2 linked regions of the Homo sapiens genome follow. The protein of the gene in region 2 interacts with the protein of the main gene of each other region in a biochemical or structural test. Each region holds a gene or a part of one and is shown on either strand. Other genes may lie near its edges.

Region 1 (3,500 bases), on a different chromosome or scaffold from region 2:
GGAAGCTGGGCGCCATCCTGACCCCCAACGACGGCCGCTGTCACCTGGAGGACAACTTGTACAAGAGGAGCAACGAATTCGTAAGTCCCCACCCCAGGCACCCAGGCACCGCCTGGCAGGACACCACTGACGGAGGAGACAAGGGTGGGGTCTCCACCTGACAGAGCCTCCTTCTGACCCAAGGAGCAGATTCCTGAGGAAACTTCTGGAAGCCCCAAGTGGCAGCGTGGGGTCTCCCCGGACTGGCCTCAGGCCAGGGGAGGGTAGGGTTGGTGGGGGCAGCCAGGCTGAGGCCCGGCCTCGCCCTTGTGGGACACCCAGGCTCTGTTGGTCTCCAGCCCCACTGCCCCCCTACCTGGGCTGACAGCTGCTGTGGAGGTATAGTAACCGCCCCCAGGCTACGGCTGCACCCTGCCGTCCCCGCCTCTGGCCAGGGTCCCATCCCCAAGCATCCGCCTCCTCCCCCTCCCGGCCTCCACTGTACGTTCCCTGCTGCCCCTGAGTCCGCCTCCTCCAGTGTGGCCCCTCCCTGCCCCCATTGCCTGAGCTGGGTGAGCGGCTGCGGGGACCATGAGGAACATGCAGGGAGGGACAGAGGCGAGAAGGAGCCCAGGATGCACGGGTTAGGATGAGCCTCTCTGCGGAGGCATCTCAATGGCTCAGAGGGGCCAGGACTTCTGGCTGGGATCAGCCGTGGGCCGAGAGGCAACCACTGGTCACAAGGGGCTTGTCCTCGCTGGCCGTAGTGCGACGCTCTTGCAGCCTGACGTTGTAGGCTCTGGGGGCCGCAAAGGACTTTAGAGATACAAGACTCAGGTCCTCCGCCGGGAGCCACAGACGGGAGGGACGGCCCTCGGGTCCCGGAACTCGGGTAGGGAGAGCCGCACCTGACACTCATGGCCTCTACCGAAACTGAGTGTCCCTCAGTGCGAAAGCAGGTCCACCGTGTGGGGAAGGCTGGGATTCTGCCCCCGTGGACATCCCCAGTCCCACGGTGAGACGCCTCAAATGCTGCTCATGCCTGGACTCTGAAAGCCCGAGTCTATGCACACATTGCCCAGAGGGCGTGGCAGCTCTCTGCCCTGCACTCCTGCGTGGCAGCCTCTGCCTCTCCAGCCTTCCCCAGAGAGGGTTCGAAGCACGGGCAGGGCTGACGCTGAGCGGGGCAGACAGGGGCGGGTACCTGGAAGCCTTGTCCTGGACTCGGGGCCAACTGAGCAGGACCTCCTCTCTCCAGGACTACCCATCGGTGGGCCAGCTGGCGCACAAGCTGGCTGAAAACAACATCCAGCCCATCTTCGCGGTGACCAGTAGGATGGTGAAGACCTACGAGGTGAGTGCTGTTGGGTCCCGAGCATCCATTGGGTGGGGGCATGTTTCAGCCACAGGCCAGACCCAGCGCCACTGCAGGTCTGAGCGCCACCTCTGCATGCTGGGCACGTGAGCAACCAGCCGGCCCAGGTCCTGGATCCCCCTAGGTGAGGAGCCCGAGGCTTCCCGTCGGGGACAGGACGCCTGCGTGTCGATAGGAGGAGGAATTCCTCCCCGTCCCTGAAACTCAGCTGTGTTAACAGCATGTCTTGGCATTGGTGATATTTCTGTTTTTTCCTGGAATACAACACAATTCTTTATTTTATGGAAACACACTTATTTTATGCTCACATACATTTGAACATCAACACTCTCCGTGAAGATAAAATTACACAAAAACGTTCACAAGCTTGGAGTGCGGAGTGGGATGAATTTCACGAAGGAAGCACAGCTGATAACCAGCCTCTGCTCCTAGAAAAAGAGGCCCCCAGTGAAACACGTTCATCCTGCATTTCCGCTGCTAGTGCCATGTGTTCAGCCTGAGCAGGTCAGTGCGTCAAGACGCTCAGGTGCTGTTGGGGTTCCCAAGACCTTTCTCAGGATCAGTGATTTGCCGGAAGGACTTGCAGAGCTCAGGAACCAGTAAACTCACAGTTACAGTTTATTGCAGAGCCGACCCTCCTGGGTGCCAGCCGCTGCCCGAGGTGGGAGGATACAGACAAAAGTCAGCAAAGGTCAAAGGTGCACAGGAGAGAAACCAGGCACCAGCTCCCAGTGTCCCCTCCCTGCAGGGGTGTGGGCGGCGCTCCATCCTCCCAGCGATGATGTGTGGCCTCATGCACAGAACATGGTCCCCAAGGAGGCTCTTGAGCCTCGGTGTCTACTGGGGGTCAGTCACAGCGGCGCGGCTGACACCCCATGGCTGACCTCAGTCTCTAGCCCTCCAGAGGTCAAGCTGAAAACTGTCCAGGGCCCCACCCCAAATCACACTGTGGGACTATCCGGTGTGACCTGAGGCCCCAGGAACAATGACACCCCCATCGGGTAGGATGTACCAAGGGCTCAGAGGCTACCTCTCAGGAGCTCAGCCGGGGTCTACCACTCTTTGGCATGTGTGGGGTGTGGCCAGCCAGGCCTGCTGGGTGGAGCCCTGACTGTGTAACAGGGATTCGCTAGAAGGAAGGAAACACTGCACGCCCTCCTGAAAGGAGCCTCCGCCCATAGCAGCCTGCACAGTGTGTGGCCCTGAGGCCACAGGGACAGAAGGACTGAGCTGGAGGAAGGAGGTGGTTGTCATTGTACTTTACACAGCCACGTGCCCCGTTCTTCAGGGTGGAGCTGGAGGAACGAGATAGTTGTCATTGTACTTTACACAGCCACGTGCCCCGTTCTTCAGGGTGGACAGGGCCCTGGGTGGCTCACCTCACACCCAGCTCTGTTACTTACCACAGGACGCCCCAGGCCCTTCCTTACCCCGAGCCCTCAGTTTCCTCATCTGTGAAAGGGGTAGTGGTGCCCGGCGGGCAGTGCGTCGTGGGTACTGAGCTCACCCACTCAGGGAATTCACAGAGCAGCCGCCCTAAAGGGCCCGATTATCCTCATCCGGACAGTGACCGACCTGCTGGCCATTCCAGGGCCATCACCGCCATCTTCTTCAAAATGGCACGCAGGAAACCAGGGCCCCCTCTTCCCCCTGCCTGGGGCTCTGCCCAGCTGGGCAGCCTCACAGCCCCTGCCCTGCTGCTTAGGCTGAGGAGACATACTCGGGGTTTGGGGAAGGAAAGTGCCCGGGAGGGCCGCTGCTTTTGTAAAGTGAACATTTGCTGAACTACAGGGATCCATTGTCAGGCCCGTATCCCAGCTACAAGCTCAACCTCGTGGTGTGTTGGGGCCGACAGCGAGACCAGCGGTTCCTGCCATAGGTTCCCCGGGCTCTGGAGTGGGAGCAGGACCCTGCGGGAGACACGGGATGGGGGCAGGTGTCTGGGGGACCCTCCGAGTGGGCACCCAGAGCTGGTCAGGCTGCCGGGACAGTGGGTCAGCGCAGGGCAGGGCTGGGGCCGGACATCCACAGAGACCACCTGCTGGTCAGGATGTCACAGCCCTGTGTCCCATCTGTAGGTGGCCATGACGGTCCCCTCCTCACCAGCAGTAGCAGGTCCCAATCCTTTGCCATTTGTCATGGCAGC
Region 2 (3,500 bases):
GTCCAGCACAATACACAGAGATGTTTCATCCCTTTCATCTCTCCTGTTCCAAATGACCTATGATGTGTGCCCCCCATACTTGAAATAAGAAGGCAATCTTCTAATTCTTACTATAGAATAAGTGTCCTAACTGATCGTGAATGCAAGAAATACTGAAGAAAAAATCTGTTTGACATAATCTCTTTTGATTAACACATGGAACATTTAGAAAGGAGCAGGTATGAGCCATAAGATTCCAGAAACTGAAGTGTTTTGTTTTGTTTCGTTTTTGTTTTTGTTTTTTGAGATGGAGTCTCACTCTGTCGCCAGGCTGGAGTGCAGTGGCGCGATCTCGGCTCACTGCAACCTCCGCCTCCCAGGTTCAAGCAATTCTCCTGCCTTAGCCTCCTGAATAGCTGAGACTACAGGCGTGCACCACCACACCCAGCTGATTTTTTTATTTTTATTAGAGACAGAGTTTCACAATGTTGGCCAGGATGGTCTCGATCTCTTGACCTCATGATCCGGCCACCTTGGCCTCCCAAAGTGTTGGGATTACAGGCGTGAGCCACCACACCTGGCCTGTTTTGTTTTTGAGACATGGTCTCACTCTGTTGCCCAGGCAGGAGTACAGTGGCACGATCTCAGCTCACTGCAACCTCCGCCTCCCAGGTTCAAGCGATTCTAGTGACTCAGCCTCTTGAGTAGCTGGGATCACAGGCAGGCACCACCACACCCGGCTAATTTTTTTTTGTATTTTAGTAGAGATGGGTTTTCACCATGTTGCCCAAGCTGCTCTTGTACTCCTGAGCTTAAGCGATCTGCCCACCTCGACCTCCCAAAGTGCTGGGATTACAAGCATGAGCCACCATGCCCAGCCTGAAACTGAACAGTTTATCATTATAACCCAGACCAATACAATCTGTTTAATTCACAGGAAGGTGTGGTGGCTCATGCCTGTAATCCTAGTACTTTAGGAAGCCAAGGCAGGAGAATCACTTGAGGCCAGGAGTTCAAGACCAGCCTGGGTAACACAGTGAGACCCTGCTCTATTTAATTAAAAGAAAAATTATAGTTTCAAAAAAAAAATCTACTGGCCAGGAGCGGTGGCTCACGCCTGTAATCCCAGCACTTTGGGAGGCCGAGGCGGACGGATCACCTGAGGTCAGGAGTTTGAGGCCAGCCTTACCAACATGGTGAAACCCCATCTCTACTAAAAATACAAAAATCAGCAGGGCATGGTGGCGTGCGCCTGTAATTCCGCTACTCAGGAGGCTGAGGCACAAGAATTGCTTGAACCCGGGAGGCAGATGTTGCAGTGAGCCGAGATTGTGCCACTGCACTGCAGCCTGGGCGACAGAGCAAGACTCCATCTCAAAAAAAAAAAAAAAATTAAATTAAATTAAATTTTCTAAAAATCTATTTAATTCACAATTTCTTCTCGTAAGGAAACATTTTGTAGTTGGCCAGAAGACAATATATGGGTTGAGAGATCTTTCATCTTTAAAAGAAAAATTAAAAGAAAGGTAAACGACTGTTACAATTAGCCAAAATCTAACCTAAACCCCAGTCAAAACTGATACACATTTTCCCCATGCTTAAAACAGTGACAAAAACCTGTAAATCACTTTATTTGATAGAAAAGAGTTAACCTAAGTTAAGTAAATAAACCATCATTTCTTATGATGTAGCCAGTTCATAATACACAAATATGCAAAATAAAAATTTTTTTCAATCCAGCTAGTGATCAGTAGATTTAATAAGTCACCATTTTGTAACCACCAAATTCAGTTTGTTTGCTTGTTTGTTTTAAAAAAAAACTTTTAAAATGTTGATCCTCACTGAGGGCACATTTGCACTATTACAGGTACGTGTACTGATACATTGCTAAGAAAAGAGTAAATTGGTGCAGCCCTTTTGGAAAAAGTTGGCACCAGACATCAAGAATTCTAAAAATGTTTATACTCTGACATGTTCATGTCACCCTGAGAATATATCTTAAAGACCACAAAGTGTGTATAATTATGGCAACCTTATGTTCCAGATTTTCTAAGAAGGTGTTCACTGTAAATAATTGTGTTCTTTTCAATAAAGGCAAATCAGTAAGTTAGTAACTAAGTTTGAGAATAATGGAAGTCATCCATATCATAGAAAAACAAAGAAAACGGGTTCTGCATGGGGTCAAACATGCACAGAAGTGTTCTGGTTTCTGTTTGAAATGGAGAGTTGAGGAAAAAAACTCAAACTCACCACATATTAACTTTTTACAAGATGGAACTTGGTTCAATCCATTATTCCCTCCACAGTTGCTGAGCTGCCTCTGTAGGGCCCCAGGCACCATGCCTATTCTGGAGACATGGTGATGAAAAGGCAAATCTTTCTTAAATGCAACAGGCTCCTCTCCCCAGCCCGCAGCAGCACCCAGACATGCCAGTGCCCAGACCTTATTTTTCTTGTTGAATCTTCTCACCACCCACACACAGGTCTCCATGGTACAGCATGACAGCTCTTCCTATAATTCTGATATAAATCCTCCTTTTATCCAGAGTCTTTGGTCACAAACCGTAATACATACATGTGAAATGTTCCCAAATCTTGAGTAGACACTCAAGATTATGCCTGTGAGAAAACTCCTTTCCATGAAAACACAGAAGAAACTACTCTCTTTTCTTATCAAACCCCCGAAGTACCCACCAGGGCATTCGGCATGGGAAATCGGGTTAGAACTGCCGCAAGGCACTGCTCCCTCAGACAGCCCACCACCTGTGGCTGGCATAACGGCCCTGGACTTGCTGCCTGCTTTCCCTCTGTGCCACTAGGCACCCACCCCTGCAGTCACCCCAGCTCCCGAGGCATCACACCATCCACAGACCACAGGGTTAGTCCTCCTGAGGTCCCTCTGTGTGTTATGACACCACACCTAACCCGGCACAGAAACCAGGCTGAACACCCTGACAGTCTCCTGTGGCCCATGAAGATTGGGGGGGCCGCTGGGGGTTAGGGGAAGAGGAGAGATGGAAGGAAGTTACTAATTAAGAGTGATCTTGAAAGCCTCGGGTGCTAAGGGTCTTTTTTCTTTTTACCCCTGTCCTGAGTATTCCCTTATATCCTTCCCTCAAAGGCCAAAGCTAGAGACAGCAGATACGTTTTTATGCAATTGGACCTCAATGCTTCTCGAAATATGCGAATGAACAACTTTCTTGAATGTCTTACCCCACCACTCTTCCTCTACAGAGAAAGTGAAACCTCGTTTTTTTAATTCTTGCTGAAAACACTGCTATTTTAACTTGAAATTTGTTCTTTCTTGTTTTAGATAATGAATTAGTTCTACCTTTCCTGCTTTAGATAATCAATCTGGGAACTCAATGTAAAAATTACATCAAAGGCAAATAAAAAGTAAGGTATTTCAGAAGCTGAATAAGTAAAGGACATTTGCAGACGTCTCTTCCTTTTCATTTGAAAACTCACCTAAAAATTATTTTAAAATTCTCTGTTGACAACTTCCCTAATTGAAGCTAACT

The links.
Region 1: the proteins of CYTH1 (region 2) and ITGB2 form a complex in vitro, tested with the Homo sapiens proteins (one study listed by BioGRID).

Annotation. Positions count from the first base shown.
Region 1 is NC_000021.9:44,896,900-44,900,399, reverse strand, and holds part of ITGB2 (integrin beta-2 isoform 1 precursor), read left to right. Parts: coding exon 1-80; intron 81-1,237; coding exon 1,238-1,333; intron 1,334-3,500.
Region 2 is NC_000017.11:78,772,274-78,775,773, forward strand, and holds part of CYTH1 (cytohesin-1), read right to left. Parts: intron 1-3,500. UniProt on the Homo sapiens protein: Promotes guanine-nucleotide exchange on ARF1, ARF5 and ARF6. Promotes the activation of ARF factors through replacement of GDP with GTP.